2 separate regions of the Homo sapiens genome follow, and region 2 is linked to region 1. The links come from fine-mapping of genetic effects on gene expression. Tissue or cell type: whole blood. Region 1 holds a variant in brackets; the other region holds the start of a gene. All regions are shown on one strand. Distances are between the middles of the regions.

The links. PIP is the estimated chance that this variant, and not a neighbour inherited with it, causes the effect.
Region 2: UEVLD starts here. The variant in region 1 is fine-mapped to the expression of UEVLD in whole blood (TOPMed, PIP above 0.99).

Annotation. Positions count from the first base shown.
Region 1 is chr11:18,466,365-18,474,364 of GRCh38, forward strand. The region is part of intron 3 of LDHAL6A (lactate dehydrogenase A like 6A); the gene reads left to right. Among named protein-coding and RNA genes, the nearest start is that of LDHAL6A, 15 kb to the left of the region's middle. The variant G/C (reference allele first, on the strand shown) is at 3,708.
Region 2 is chr11:18,585,479-18,593,611 of GRCh38, forward strand. It overlaps UEVLD (UEV and lactate/malate dehyrogenase domains), which reads right to left and starts at 3,256. Exons shown (of 12, transcript NM_001040697.4): 1 at 3,135-3,256. The coding sequence starts at 3,176. LOC112268073 (a long non-coding RNA gene) reads right to left here. Exons shown (of 4, transcript XR_002957242.2): 3 at 5,058-5,363; 4 at 4,615-4,802. RefSeq lists enhancers at 2,304-2,413, 2,814-2,963, 3,004-3,063, 3,124-3,418, 3,324-3,373.

The DNA.
Region 1 (8,000 bases):
GTGTGAGGCCAGATGCAGTGGCTGAAGCCTGTAATCCCAGCACTTTGGGAGCCCAAGGTGGGTGAAGTGCTTGAATCCAGGAGTTTGAGAATGGCCTGGGCAACATGACAGAACTCCATCTCTACAAAAAAATACAAAAATTATCAGGGCATGGTGGAGCATTCCTGTAGTCCCAGCTACTCAGGAGGCTGAGGCGGGAGGATTGCTTCAGCCAGGGAGGTCAAGGCTGCAGTGAGCCATGATTGCGCCACTGCACTCCAGCCTGGGTCACAGTGAGACCCTGTCTCAAAAAAAAAAAAAAAAAAAAGTAGTGTGTATGGGAAGATAATATGCTTAATCATATGAGTTCAAGGTTTATATTCTAAAGGCTGAGGTTTGTTTTCCAAATTACTGTTTGAGAAGTGAAAGTAGGGCTATAGTTTACTGCCTGACTCTCCAAAATTGTACTAGACTCCTCACTGGTGCATTTACAAGGTGGACAAACTGAAAATAGACTTCGGAGATAAAATGTGCAGGACTGCTGATAGATTATGTCTAGTGAGAGAAAGGGAGGAATAAAAAATAACTTCGAGAGTTTTTCCTTTGAGTAACTGAAGGGATGGTAGTTCCATTTAACTGGGTTGGTAAATTTACTGATCGGGTGGGAGTCAGTGAGGGAAGGAGGCAGGGATGTTACATATAGAGGGGAAAAATCAAGATACCTGAAATGATACTCAAGAGGAAATGTCAAACAGCTAGAGATTATGAGTCTGGAGCTTAGTAGTTTAGGGATATTCAAATTACTGTATTCTAAAATTATTTGGAGTAGTTTTTCTCTGTGCAGACCAACAGTGAGTGCATGATTAAGTTTATTCATTTTAATTTCGATGCTGAAGAACTATTTAACTTTTGTTTCACAGTTTTATAAAATATTCACATGGCTCCAACATCAATTCTAGAGAACAGGAATTATTCAAAGTGGTCCAGCTTCTGTCCCTGTGCCCTTTCCCCTATAGCCTCCATCCTTTTATAGGTAACCATTTACACTTTTTATGGTTTACAGCTTTTTGTTACTACATACGTTTTTCTCCATCTTCTTTCATTTTTAACTTAATATATCATGAAGCTCAACTCCATAGTAGTATTTATAAATATGTTGATTACTGTAGCTTTGTGGTAAGTTTTGAAATCAGGATGTATTAAGTCTTCTGACTATTCTTTAAGATTATTTTGGGTCAGGCGTGGTGGCTCACACCTGGAATCCCAGCACTTTGGGAGCTGAGCCAGGTGGATCACCTGAGGTGAGGAGTTCAAGACCAGCCTGGCCAACATGGCAAAATCCCATCTTTACTAAAAATACAAAAATTAGCTGGGCATGGTGGTGCACACCTGTAATCCTAGCTACTTGGGAGGCTGAGGCAAGAGAATCGCTTGAACCCAGGAGGCAGAGGCTGCAGTGAGCTGAGATCGCACCACTGCACTCCAGCCTGGGCAACAGGGCAAGACTGTCTCAAAAAAAATATATATATATACACACATATATATATATATATATATATATATATATATATATATACACACACATATATATATACACACACATATATATATACGTATATATATACGTATATATATACGTATATATATGCATATATATACGTATATATATACATATATATACGTATATATATATACATATATATACGTATATATATATACATATATATATATATATTTTGCTTGTCTGGATCTTTAGCATTTCCATATGAATTTATGTATCAGCTTGTCAATTTCTGAAGTAAAACCAGCAAGGATTTTGATAGGGATTACTGCTGATTCATTTTGGTTCTTTTGTATTTAATAAGTTGTTTTTCTCTTGCTGTTTCCAGTATTTTCTCTTTGGCTTGTAACAGTTTGACTATGATGTGTTGAAGTGTGAATGTCTTTCAGTTTATACCACTTGGCATTCATTGAGCAGCTTGGATGTATAGGTTTTTTTTTTTTTCTTTTTTTGAGATGGAGTCTTGCCCTGTGGCCCAGACTGGAGTGCAGTGGCATGATCTCGGCTCATTGCAACCTCCGCCTCCTGGATTCAAGTGATTCTTGTGCCTCAGCCTCCTGAGTAGCTGGGATTATGGGCACCCACCACCACTCCTGGCTAACTTTTTGTATTTTTAGTAGAGACGGGGTTTCTCCATGTTGGCCAGGCTGGTCTTGAACTCCTGACCCGAACTGATCTGCCCACCTCAGCCTCCCAAAGTGCTGGGACTACAGGCATGAGCCACTGCACCCGGCTTGGATGTATAATGTTTTTCTATTTGGGAAGTTTCAGCTGTTACTTCTTTGAATAATTTTCTGCTCCTCTCCCTTCCTTCTGGTCCTACCATACATGCATATATATGTTGGTGTGTTTAACGGTATCCCATAAGTTTGAGGCTGTTTTTTCTTTTTTAAAATAGTTCATAGATTATCAAAAGTTCTTTTTGTATGGCATTGAGATTTATTTATATATTTAACTGCATGCATATCTTTAGCTTTCACATAAATTTTGCTTCATACAGGCTATTGGTATAAGCATTTCCTCTTTTAAGAGTTTGATTCTTTAAAAAAAATACCAAATCCAAAATTCAGAAATGGTAGTCCGGCGCTACAAGGAAGCACACTGAAAATAACAAGCTGATGATACATTATCACATTGTACAATAGTATTTTATATTTTCTTACACACTTTCCAGTAAGTTTTTTCACATCCTGAAATGTCACGGTGTCATTTTTGAAAGGAGAGCTGTGGAGAGATTCTGATATGACTCAGAGTTGTGAAGGCACCTGGTGGAGCTCCTTCATTAATTTCTCTAACCGTTCAGGGCACTGAAGTCTGTGGGGACAGTAAGTTCACATTTACTGTTTGTGTTAAGTGAATCCCCAACCTACTTTGATTTGCACTAAAACGCCTCTACCCTCAAAGTACCGCGTCATTAAGGTTATATGATAACAAATTAGGAAAAACAAATTAAGCATCACTTGCTTGGCAACATTAACTGGCCCACCACACTCCCACCACAGATTTTAGAAGTGTACATTAGCAAAAGATGCTTCTCTATGCATTATGGCAGAAGTCTATTAAAGAATATTTAATTTATTGACTAATATTTCTAATAAGCACATTCAGAGGATACTCTTTCTACATTTTATATACTGGCTGTCTGCCATTAACAGCAGTAAAAATAAGGAAAAATAAAAAAATCTCAATCTCAAATGATTTAACAGCTTAGTTCTGTATTTGCTTGACAGTGTATGCAGTTATAGTACACACTATCAAATATATCTTCCATATCTATTTAGAAAACTTATTCTGATATTAGAACCATGTGAAGAAAGTCTTCTCCATTATTTTAGTGAGTCTGTTAAAATGGTCCACTAAGAACCATCTTCAAAATTTCAGGTGCTTCAAAAGTTAAGAGAAACAATTAACTTCATTACTCTAATACAAAACAAAAACAAAAACAAAAACTGACAACTTTAAATTAGTATTAAGCTACCAAAAATTGATACCACTCAGGAAAGATTTTTTCCCCCCCGAATGATAATTTTATTTATTTTTTTGAGACAGAGTCTCTGTCTGTCACCCAGGCTGGAGTGCAGTGATGCAATATCGGCTCACTGCAATCTCCGCCTCCCAGGTTCAAGCAATTCTCATGCCTCAGCTTCCCAAGTAGCTGGGATTACAG[G/C]CATGTGCCACCATGCCCAGCTAATTTTTGTATTTTTAGTACAGATGGGGTTTTACCATGTTAGGCTGGTCTTGAACTCCTGGCATCAAATGATCTGCCTGCCTTGGCCTCCCAAGGTGCTGGGATTATAGGCGTGAGCCACCGCGTGGCACTGAATGATAATATTTAGCTAAAATTTTAGTGAAAGAAAAGGCAATTCTGAGAGCAATCTGGGTAGAGAGGGGTTTCTCAGGCGTAGGTACTAATTCCCATGCAGGACTGCCTTCAGATGCAGCTCCCGTGTCTCCACAGTCCTCAAGGCCTGGTTTTGGTGGTTCTGTAGTAAAGGCTTCACACATGTGTAATATGTATAGGTAGCATCACTACAAAATGGAGTGCAAGTTCAAATCAGAGTTTTAAGGTCAGGAAAAGTAAGTATCATTTAAATGAATCACCAGAGACACTTTTAGAAGTTCTTAAGTTCCTTTAGAAATCTCCCTTTCAAGGATGTGCCAATTTTTATTTTGGCAAATCATGGATAAAAACTAAATGTATTAATAGTTATGATGATTGTGGTGCTATTTTTTAAACATTACTAACTTTATAGCAATACTCACATTTACCTATTTACCTAGCACACTTTTTTTTTTTTTTGAGATGGAGTCTTGGTCTGTTGCCCAGGCTGGAGTGCAGTGGCGTGATCTCGGCTCACTGCCACCTCCACCTCCCGGGTTCAAGCAATTCTCCTGCCTCAGCCTCCCAAGTAGCTGGAATTACAGGCGTGCACTACCACGCCCAGCTAATTTTTGTATTTTTAGTAGAGACGGGGTTTCACCATGATGGCCAGTCTGGTCTCAAACTCCTAACCCCAAGAGATCCGCTCACTTCAGCCTCCCAAAGTGCTGGGATTACAGGCGTGAGCCACAGCGCCTGGCCACATTTCAACAGTGTTTTATTTTCAGTAACTGACCTACTGCAGTCTATTTTCAGACTTTTAGTTTATATATGATATTTTATTATGCTGATATGAATGTGAAATTTTAAAAATTAAAACAAGCAATTAGTAAGGGTTTCTTATTTATGTTAAATATTAATTTATCTTACCTAAGTGCATAATTTTGTCCATGTAGTGGTAGAATTGTAAAACTAAACTTTAGAAGTTTTTTTTTTTTTTTTTGAGAGAGGGTTTTGCTCTGTTGCTCAGGCTGGAGTGCAGTGGCGCAAACTTGGCTCACTGCAACCTCCGCCTCCTGGGTTCAAGTGATTCTCGTGCCTCAGCTTCCCAAGTAGCTGGGATTGCAGGCGCACACCATCATGCCCAGTTAATTCTTGTATTTTCAGTAGAGCTGGAGTTTTGCCATGTTGCCCAGGCTGGTCTTGAACTCCTGGCCTCAAGTGATCTACCCACCTTGACCTCCCGAAGTGCTGGGATTACAGACGTGAACCGCCACGCCTGCATACAGATCTTATTTCAGTTACAAAAACACACTGTTGACATTATTTTAATATAGCATTTTAGTTTATTACTGTGGAAATGTGGAGCACAAGACATGACAAATACTAGGTATTAATTTCAAAACTGTTCAGAATGAGGCTGGGCGTGGTGGTTCACACCTGTAATCCCAGAACTTTGGGAGGCTGAGGCGGGAGGATTGCTTGAGCCCAGGAGTTCAAGACCAGCCTGGGCAAAATGGTGAAACCCTGTCTCTATTAAAAAAAAAAAAAAAAAAAATTTTTTCCAAAAGAACAAAAATCTACCCAGAATGGCTTATGAAGGTTTGTAATTGTTGATTTAAGAGTATTTAGGATTTTTTTTTTTTTTTTACAAATTAAAAAGTTCCAGTAACTATTTACATGAACTAAATGACCAAATGGAAGTGGAAAATGGAAAATTTAGAGGGCAGTACGGTAAGGGAGGGGATGTAAAATAATACAGGAAGATAACCTAAACAATTGAAGATCAAAGATTTAGGAAAAGTTTAACCTTTTCTTCAAATCTATAGTCATTTACCTAGAAAATGCGGTTGGGTACCCTGGGACACAGCTGAGTTACTTGCTCTGTTTTCAGTTTACCAATTAAAACAGGTCACATTCTCTGTTCCAGACCCAGGGCCTGGCAGAGGTCCCCCAATCCCCTTGAGTTTCAGTGGCAGTTGACGAACCTCTTAAGGCCCAGGATGACTAACCGAGGTTCTTCACTTGACAGCTTTATGTATGAGGAAACTTAAAGACATTTCTACCATACTTCTCTCCATCTCAGGTATTAGAATGAATGCTTACCATTTAAAATAGTGGTATGATCAGACTGTTTCAGTATCACTTTTTACCATCAATGGATATTAAACAGGGAACAGAAGCTCTAACTTTTACATTAATGGAAATATTACCTGTTTAGAAAACACTGTTTCAGAGGACAAAAGATGTCATCTTCATATCTTTTTAAAGTGTCTAATTTCTACTATTTGAGTACTTAAATCTGCCATAAAAAATATGGATTTACAAAAAAGACAAATTAGAAATTATGTCCTTCACAGAGATCCACTACAGGATTCTGAATCTTAAATTGTCTTCATATGTTTAGGATAGAATTTGATGCATTTATTATTTTTAAAGTATGAGTTATTACATAAAGCTAAGTTAAAAGTTCAACCAAATGGAAAAGGTACCAACAAATGCCTAAAATACTATTCTAATCATCTAAAACAAGAACAAATAGATTTTTCAAATAAGAGTTGAATCAATATTTATTTTAGACACTTCATTTACTTGAAAGCTGCTACTTTATTACTTAAAGACTGAGCCTGTAAGAAAATAAAAGAGGTTTAATTCAAATAATATGAAAGTGAACTCTTTACCTTACCTGTTTTTCCCCAAATAATTTTGACTTCATTAATGGAAATTTATGTGAATGGCTCTAAAAACCACCTATTTTGAAACTGCAGAAATAGCAGGACAATCACTTTGTAGAATGATTTGTGAAATATTGTCCTACTACACTTAAAAAAAAAACCCAACACATTTCCTCACTTACGAGTATTTTCTTATTTTTGATATTGCAAATTCTATACATAGAACACCTCTTCATTGTCCTGCTGAAACCCTCAGAATGTAGAGGTGGTTCAAAAGTAATTTATACCATTTTTACCCAGGCTTTGTAAACATGTATCAAAGAGATAGCAAGGTATTCAGTTTTAGTAAACAAAATAATTGCTCCTATAGTAGCTCCTCAAAGTCCCAGGCAAGTAGGCATTAGCAGTTTTCTATTAGATAATTCTACCATCTCCAAATAAGGACTTTGGTCTGTTTATAAAAACTAATTGATAGATGAAGGTAGGTAGGTAGACAGACAGACAGACAGACAGACAGATAGATACAGGCTTTTGCTTTGTTACCTATGCTGAAGTGCAGTGGCACAACCATAGCTCATTGTAACCTTGAACCCCTGGGCTCAAGTGATCCTGTCTCAGCCTCCCAAGTATCTGGGACTAAAGGTGCATGCCACCACACTTGACTACTTTTTACATTTTGTAGAGACGCGGTCTTGTTATGTTGCCCAGGCTGGTCTCAAACTCCAAGTCTCAAGTGATCCTCCCACCTCAGCCTCCCTGTAAGAATTGGGATTACAGGTGTGAGCCACCGTGTCTGGCCTTGGTTTATTCTTGGTAGTTTTTTTCTCCCTTGTCCTATTGCATAACCTAGAAGACTCTCCAGTATAATGTTAAACAGAAACAGTGATAGTGGGTATCCTTGTCTTGTTTCTGACTTTAATGAAAAGGCTTCTAAGTTTTCTTCATAATGTATGTTTGCTTTGGATTTTGATAGATACCTTTTTAAGATAAAAAGCAGTTTCCTTCTGTTCCTAGATTTAGTTTTATTTTTTAATCCCTGAATGAGTTTTCCTACAGTTAAAATGATCATATCTATCTTTTTCTTTAAATCTCATCTGATGTAATATGTTGACAGATTTTTTGATATTGAACCACCTTTGCATTTCTGGGGTGAAGCTTCTTCTTAAAGTATTTTTCTTTCTCATTTTCTTTTCTTTTTGAGACGGAGTCTTGCTCTGTCGCCCAGGCTGGAGTGCAATGGTGTGATCTCGGCTCACTGCAACCTTCACCTCCCGGGTTCAAGCAATTTTCTGCCTCAGCCTCCCAAGTAGCTGGGATTACAGGTGTCCACCACCACGCCTGGCTAATTTTTTTATTTTTAGTAGAGATGGGGTTTCACCATGTTGACCAGGCTGGTCTTAAACTCCTGACCTCGTGATCCACCCGCCTCGGCCTCCCAAAATGCTGGGATTACAGGCGTGAGTCA
Region 2 (8,133 bases), 120 kb after region 1:
CATTTCCAAACATGTGTGACTACGATTCTAAGCCCTTTAGTCTGTTTCACTGGTTAGTCTATTCCACACCAATGCCACACTAAATTTTACTTGCCGTAGTACTGATATTTGGTAGAGCAGGTCCTCAAATCTATCATCTATTCTTTCCTTCTTTATTATTATTATTTTTTTTTTTTTGAGACAGAGTATTGCTCTGTGGCTCAGGCTGGGGTGCAGTGGCGCATTCTCAGCTCACTGCAACCTCTGTCTCCTGGGTTCAAGCGATTCTCCTGCCTCAGCCTCCCAAGTAGCTGGGGTTACAGGTGCCCACCACCATGCCCAGTTTTTACATTTTTTAGGAGAGACGAGGTTTCACCATGTTGGCCAGGCTGCTCTTGAACTCCTGACCTCAAGTGATCCGCCCACCTCGGCCTCCCGAAGTGCTGGGATTAGAGGCGTAAGCCACCACACCCAGCCCTCATATCTATTTTTTTTCCATAATAATGTCAAGGTTATCCTTGGCCTTCTGCTCTTCTGAATGAATTTTAGAATCAGTTTGAAGTTTCCAAGAAATGCATTGACCCTATAGATAAATTTGGAGAGAACTGACAATCTTCACATCTATGAAACTGGGATATCTATTTAATTAGATTTTTTACTTTCTCCATAGTTGCTTAATTTTTTAATGTACTGATCACTTCTCCATCGATTTTTTCTGCAACAAAATTATTTCTAAGTTTTAAAAAATTTTAAATTCATTTTTTTTTATTTTTTTGAGATGGGGTCTCCCTCTGTTGCCCAGGCTGGAGTGCAGTGGCACGATCTTGGGCCACTGTAACCTCCACCTCCCAGGTTCAAGTGATTCTCCTGCTTCAGCCTCCCGAGTAGATGGGATTACAGGAGCGGGCCACCACGCCTGGCTTATTTTTTTGTATTTTTAGTAGAGATGGGGTTTCACCATGTTGGACAGGCCGATCTCGAACTCCTGGCCGCAGGTGATCTACCCGCCTCGGTCTCCCAAAGTGCTGGAATTACAGACGTGAGCTACCGTGCCTGGCCTTACATTTATTTCTACTTTTTAGAGACACGGTCTCGTTCTGTCTCCCAGGCTGGCAAGCAGTGGCACAATCATAGCTCTCTGCATACTCAAACACCAGGGCTCAAGCTATTCTCCTGCCTCAGCCTCTCAAGTAGCGGGGACTACAGGCATGAGTAACTGTGCCTAGACTAAAATTATTTCTAGATATTAAACAATATTATTTGCAGACTGCAGTGAATGGTCAGGAAACTTCATATATTTGCTGCACTGACTTGTTTCTGATTGGTTTCCTTAATTTATACAGCCAACAAATACTTATTAATAATAAGCTACCCCAGCCTGGCCAATATGACGAAACCTCGTCGCTACTAAAAATACAAAAAAAATTAGCCGGGCTTGGTGGTGGGCGCCTGTAGTCCCAGCTACTCAGGATGCTAAGGCAGGAGAATCGCTTGAACCCAGGAGGCGGAGATGGCAGTGAGCAGAGATCGCGCCACTGCACTTCAACCTGGGTGACAGAGCGAGACTCCGTCTCAAAACAAACAGTAATAATAATAATAAGCTACCTATGTGCCAGACTCTATGCTATGCACTGATGGGGAAAAAAAAATCCTCTACTATTCTACTCTCACCCTTGAAAAAACCATTGTCTCTCTTCTTTTCCTTCATTCCAGTGCCACCAAAAATATGCTCTATGTTTGAATCTTAACTTGAACAATTCTTCCCATCGGACAATCCATCATCCTCTGCACATTAAAACTTGAATGGTTCTTTTAATTTCACATGCTCTGAAGAGGAGACAGAAAGGGTAGCATTATGATACTTCTCTTCCTACAAGATCTGCACCTGTCGCAGTAGATAAATTCATTCAAGTCACTTACATAAACAATTTCAATCTTAGGACTTCAAAACCTCCCACGGGTATGTAAACTGCCCCAACAAAGAAAGAGGCAAGTATAACAAAAATGGCATAAACTATGGTTTCTGCATTAGGAAGTCTTAAGAAGCATTAAGAATTATTTAAGGCCGGGTGCGGTGGTTCATACCTGTAATTCCACCACTTTGGGAGGCTCAGGCGAGTGGATCACTTGAGGTCAAGAGTTCGAGACCAGACTGGCCAACATGGTGAAAACCCATCTCTACTAAAATACAAAAATTAGCCAGGCATGGTGGCACGCGCCTGTAGTCCCAGCTACTTGGGAGGCTGAGGCACGAGAATCGGCTTGAACCCGGGAGGTGGAGGTTGCAGTGAGCCTAGATCGCACCACTGCACTCCAGCCTGGGGGACAGAGCAAGACTCTGTCAAAAAAAAAAACACAAAAAACAAAAAACCACCTTAACTAGGAAACTGGTGAAAACTAGTCTTCTTAACTAGAAAATTGGCGGGGATTCCCTCAGATTGTACACCGGAAACTCAGGCTAGTCAGGTCTCAGAAATATAGGTCAGATTTCTAGGTCGGCCCGCCTACTCCCCAGCCTTCCAACATTAAGATCTCTCCAGGGCCTTCAAGCTCTGTCTTCATCTCTAAATCTACTCAGGTCTTTCATTCACTGCACAGTTACTTAGTACCTATGGTGTTGTCAAACATAGTGGCTAGAGGAAGGGAATACAAAAGCACAATGTCTGCAGTCAAAGGGGCTCACAGCAAGATTACGGTTTGTAAATACATAATTACTCCACAATGTGATAATCGATATCTTTCAAAACAGAAGGGTTGATTCAATCTTACAGGGAGTGACTGAGTTGGGTCTTACAAAGGATGAGCTTTGCAATTCAAGAAAAAAGAAAAAAAAGGCAGACCATTTCAGCAGAGAGAAAGAGAGAAAGGCGTGGTTAGGCGTGTGCTGGGAGCTGTTTGAGGTCAGTGAAGCTGGGGGTATGAGGAGGGCTCGCACCAGGTGGAGGTTGGGAAACCTCAGAGTTGCGGGAGAAATCAGAATCCAGGTCCCCTCAGCCTCCCTGGGGCCGCGCCCCATAGCCGGTTTCAGACCAGCCGCCCCGGCTCCAAGCCCCACTACAAGCCGGGAAACGCAAAACGGAGGCAACCTGGCCAAAGGCAGAGGCACCCCCCGCAAGACCCTGAGGACCCAAACTGGCCCAGCGGACTGCCCGCACCTTGCCAAGCAGCCGTCTCAGGCCCTCGCAGTCGAACTCCATCTCCAGGCCGGTCCCGAGCTAGGTCCCAGGACTCCAGCCCCCGGACCTTCTTCCGGACTTGCTGCAGGACGGAAGCCGCTGAGGACCAAACTTCCCGGCGGTCCAAGGCCCCGCCCCTTCCCAGACTGGAAATTCCACCCGCATTCAACGCCCCGGGCTCAGCCGCGGCTGCGCCCGGAATCCGGGGCCTCTCCTTCGTGACCCCGGAGTGGGCAAGTGACGAGGGCACGGCCAGAAACGCATTGGCGTCAAGGAAACCACGACCCATCTTCCTGGAAGGAAACTTGGGGACACTTATGAAGAGAAGACTAGGAAGGACCGGAGTAGAAGCACTAAAGGAGGTAGAGGCAACACGCGGTGTTCTTGAAGAGTTTCCAGACAGATGTATTAAATTCCACAGTGTATCAGGAAAGAGCAAGACCGAAAATTGCAGTTGAATTTAGGAAGGAGGCGGTAATGGAACTTCAGAAGCAAAATTTCAGGGAGTAGAAAGGAAAAACAAAGTCAGGAGGAGCCTTGCCGGAGAAGCGGAGATAGGACAGCCCCAGCATGAGGGTGGCTTAGCACGGGGAGAGTGGTTGCTTTTTTTATTTTTTTTAGGGGTGCCATAACAATGTTGGTGGTCAAAGAGAGGAGAAATCCAGGTGAACAAATAGTTGGAAAACAAGAGAGGAGGGAGATGGGTGGATAAGGTCATCTGGAGAAGGTGGGTGAAGAAGAGATGCAGGATACAGTAATTTTCTGGCGTTGTTTGATCTCCTTGGCCCATGGCTGACTTACCTGCCCTGTATCCCTGGCCTGAGCCACTGAAGCGAAAAGTCCCAGGAGCTGGATATTGTAATTGTCAAGAGGTTGGACATATAGGAGAGAGATTGTATTTATAGGAAGATCTGAAGGGAGTGCTGCCCTGACTCAGGAGAAGAAGCTGAAAAGCTGGAAGGAACATTCATTCAGAAAGTTTTTGTTGAGCATCTACTACTTGCCAGCTATTTTTCCAGGTCTCAGGATACAGCCGTGAACAAAATACACTCAGATAGCTGATGTCTTAAGGGTGTCATTCCTTTATTAGCAGAGAGAGAGCAAAACAATAAATGTAATAAGTAAATTATTCAGCATGTCAGAAGGTTGATTACGTGTTGTGGAGAATAAATTCTGAAAAGGGTAGGGAGATTGGGGTAGGTCTCACTGAGGGGTGAGGGAGTAAGTGTTACGAATCCGAGTGCAGACAAAGCAGTAGCCTAAGGCATGTGCCCAGGGAGGCTCAACACAGCAAGGAGGCCAGTGTGGCTGGAGTAGAATGAAGTAAGATGGGAGTGGAGACAAGGAGGCTAAGTCAGGGAAATAAGACGGGGGAACAAGTGGTTTAGAGAAGTGAGTCTTCTAGTGTGAGCCCCAGATCTGCAGCCTCAGGTGCTGGGAGTTGTTAGAAATGCAGATGCTAAGACCTCAACCCCAGCTTTATTCAATCACAGGCTCTGGGGTTGGGGACCAGCAATTCTCTTTTAACAATTCTTCCAGATGATTCTGATGGGTGATGAAGTCCAAGAACCACTGTGGGACTTTGTAGACAATTGTAAGGACTCTGGCCTGTCCCTGCCCTCCAGCCAGAGACCATCAGGAACACACCTGTGCTTAAACAAGTTGAGTTCATTATTAATAGTTCTTGCAGTGAGGAAGCAGGTGTTGTGGAGGACCATTGGGACAGCTTGGTGAGGGTGAGAGAACCTATTATAGAATTTGGGCGATTTGCGGGAGGGCTCAAGAAAGCCAGGCTTCACCCTGGATTGGGTGCTGTCAGAAAGCAGGGACATTTCTGTGACTAGGTATCTGAATAAGTATTGTCTATAAGATGGACAGACTAGAGTGAGGATAAAGCTATACCTAGTAAAGAAGCAGCAGTCACTCATAATAGCAGAGAAGGACGTTTGGTATTTCATGGCTTGCACAGTGACCTTGCTCTCTTGTCTCTGCTTAGACACAATTTTGAAATGGCCTTGTTGTTGTGTCCCTTTTTTATAGTCTGACTGACCTTGTCTCATGTTGGTGTTCTGTGAGATTATGTCCCACAGAAGAATAACTGGGCCAAGCTGTGAGCATCAGGCCAGCTTCTAACAACCCTGAAGTCTAGCTGTGTCAGACCAGCTCTCAGATGTCAGGGCCTGCCTCTTCCTTTCTCAGGCTTTTAATCTGGGAGAAAGAGAAAGCCACTGGGAGGTTTCGAACAGAACAGTGACATGATCTGACTGAGCTTTAAAAAAATATTAATAACTCTGCAGTGTTGTGAAGAGGCAGTAGTGTCAGGCAAGAGTAGGCCAGAAGACAAGGTAGGAGGAAGATTACAGAGAAAAGCTGATAGAAGGGCTGTTAAGTGCATCTCAGCCAGATCTAACCAACCTTAAAACAGTAGAACTGCCAGGGGCTCCAAATTCTAATAGATCCTGCCAGAAATCCGTGGTATAAGGAAAAGATACCAGTTAGCAGCAAGGCCAGAGCAAGATTCTTCCATCTTTTATGAAAGAGCCTTTTATGAAAGAGGCCTTCCAACCAAACCAATTCTCTTCTGGTCTAGTCACTATGCACACTTTATGCCAGAGAGAGTGTGAGTGAGTGAGTGTGTGTGTGTGTATGTAGCATTTCCTTTGTGGAAGGTATACTGCTAAGAGTTTTATGTGCTTTATCTCCGTTCATCTTCATAAGACCCTATGACCTGGATAGAATTATTACCTCAATTTTACTGATAAGAAAATTGAGGTGTATTGTTATATTACCTATTTTACTTGTTTCTGAGGTTCTGTTGAATAAGAGATGTATTAATGATAGCTTTTGGGGGGAGAAGAAAACTACAAAATTAAACATACATACTGATTTTAACACACCTATTTGAAAAGAATGTAAATGTGAAATAGAGGATATGTATATAATTGTCTCCATTTTACAGATAGGGAAACCAAAGACTAAGGTTAAATTACTGCAGAAGATGATGTCAAAGACTGTCTTCCTAAACTACATGTTATAGTGCCTCTCACTGTGGGTGAAATTGTGATGACACTTTGTGATTAATAATAGTCTAGGAAATCAGCCAGGTGTGGTGGCTCATGCCTGTAATCCCAGCACTTTGGGATGCCCAGGCAGGCGTATCATCTGAGGTCAGGAGTTCGAGACCAGCCTGGCTAACATGGCGAAACCTCATCTCTGCTAAAAATACAAAAATTAGCTGGATGTGGCGGCAGGTGCCTTTCATCCCAGCTCTTTGGGAGGCTGAGGGAGGGAGAATTGCTTGAAGTTGGGAGGCAGAGGTTACAGTGAGCCGAGATCTTGCCACTGTATTCAGCCTGGGCAACAGAGTGAGATTCCATCAAAAAAAAAAAGGTCTACAAAGTCTGAATTATGTGCTTATATTGCTATGCAGTTACAAGAGAAAGGCTGTGTAGTACTGAAATTGGCTTTTTTTTTTAAGCCTCTCCCTTGACTTCCATCCTGACCACCAGGCTACCCTCATCTCCTGAAACTGGTGCTATTAGATCCTATAATCCAGTTAGGCTGAAACATTCACTCTTCCCCAAGTACATTGTCTTCTTCCTTGCCTCATACCTTAGTAGCTGCCAGGAGTGTTTTATTATACTTTTGTACCTGTCTACCTCCATCTCCACTCCTCTTTCTGTCCTCAGATACTGTAAGGCCCTGGCAAATAGGGGTTGAATCTCATTCATCTCTATATTCCCAGTGCCTAGCATAATTATTTATGCATATATTCCTTCTTATATGTAGAAAGCCAGATATAAAGAACCTGCAGTGGAAAGTTTGCAGAATGAATGAACGTATAAGGTGATCAATGCCTTAAGGAGAAGAAGGTATAGTGTACTAGTTCTCAGCCTTATCTGGGCTTCAGACTTTTTTTTAAAACGTCTGTTGAGACCGGGCTCAGTGGCCCACTCCTGTAATCCCAACACTCTGGGGCTAAGACAGGAGGATCACTTCGGCCCAGGAGTTTGAGACCAGTCTGTTTTGTAGACCCAACTCTACAAAAAATTTAAAAATTAGCCGGGCATGGTGGTGCACACCTGTAATCCCAGCTACTTGGGAAACTAGAGCAGGAGGATCTCTTGCGCCCAGGGGGCTGAGGCTGCACTGAGCTGTGTTTGTGCCACTGCATTCCAGCCTGGGTGACAGAGCAAGATCGTGTCTCAAAAAAAAATCTGTTGAAGATATAGACCTGTCCCTGTATACATACTCATGTATACAGTTTGTTTTGTGTCCAGTTTCTGGAATGTTTGTAGATTTACTGAAGTCTGCTAGACCCCAAGTGTCGTTGGTGGGATCATAATTTGCTACAACCTTTGGGCAGAGTAGTCTTGGACCTTTGACCCCATAATGCCACATTGGGAATCTGTCTTACAGAAATAAAAGTACTCAGGATATATGTACAAAGATGTTAATAATGTTAAAAGGGGCAAAAATGTCCCAAACTAAGAAATGGGAAAAGTGTATATGCTGCATCTTTGTAAGTTTTAGAAAAAACACAAAAATGGCTTGTTTAAAATTAGAGCTTGTTTTTTTTTTTTTTTGGTGCTGTACTTCTGATCTCTCTTTATACCCTTTGTTGCTTTCATGATTATTGGCCCTAGCAGACATATTAGGGGACAAAACCTTGTTATTCCAGATATCACACATATATGTATTCTTATCATATACTTCTTTTTTTTTTTTTTTTTTGAGATGGAGTCTTGCTCTGTCGCCCAGGCTAGAGTGCAGTGGCACAATCTTGGCTCACTGCAACGTCTGCCTCCTGGGTTCAAGTGATTCTCCTGTTGTAGCCTCCCGAGAAGCTGAGATTACAGGTGTGCACCACCATACCTGGCTAATTTTTGAATTTTTAGTAGAAACAGGATTTCACCATGTTGGTCAGGCTGGTCTCGAACTCCTGACCTCAGGTGATCCACCCACCTCTGCCTCCCAA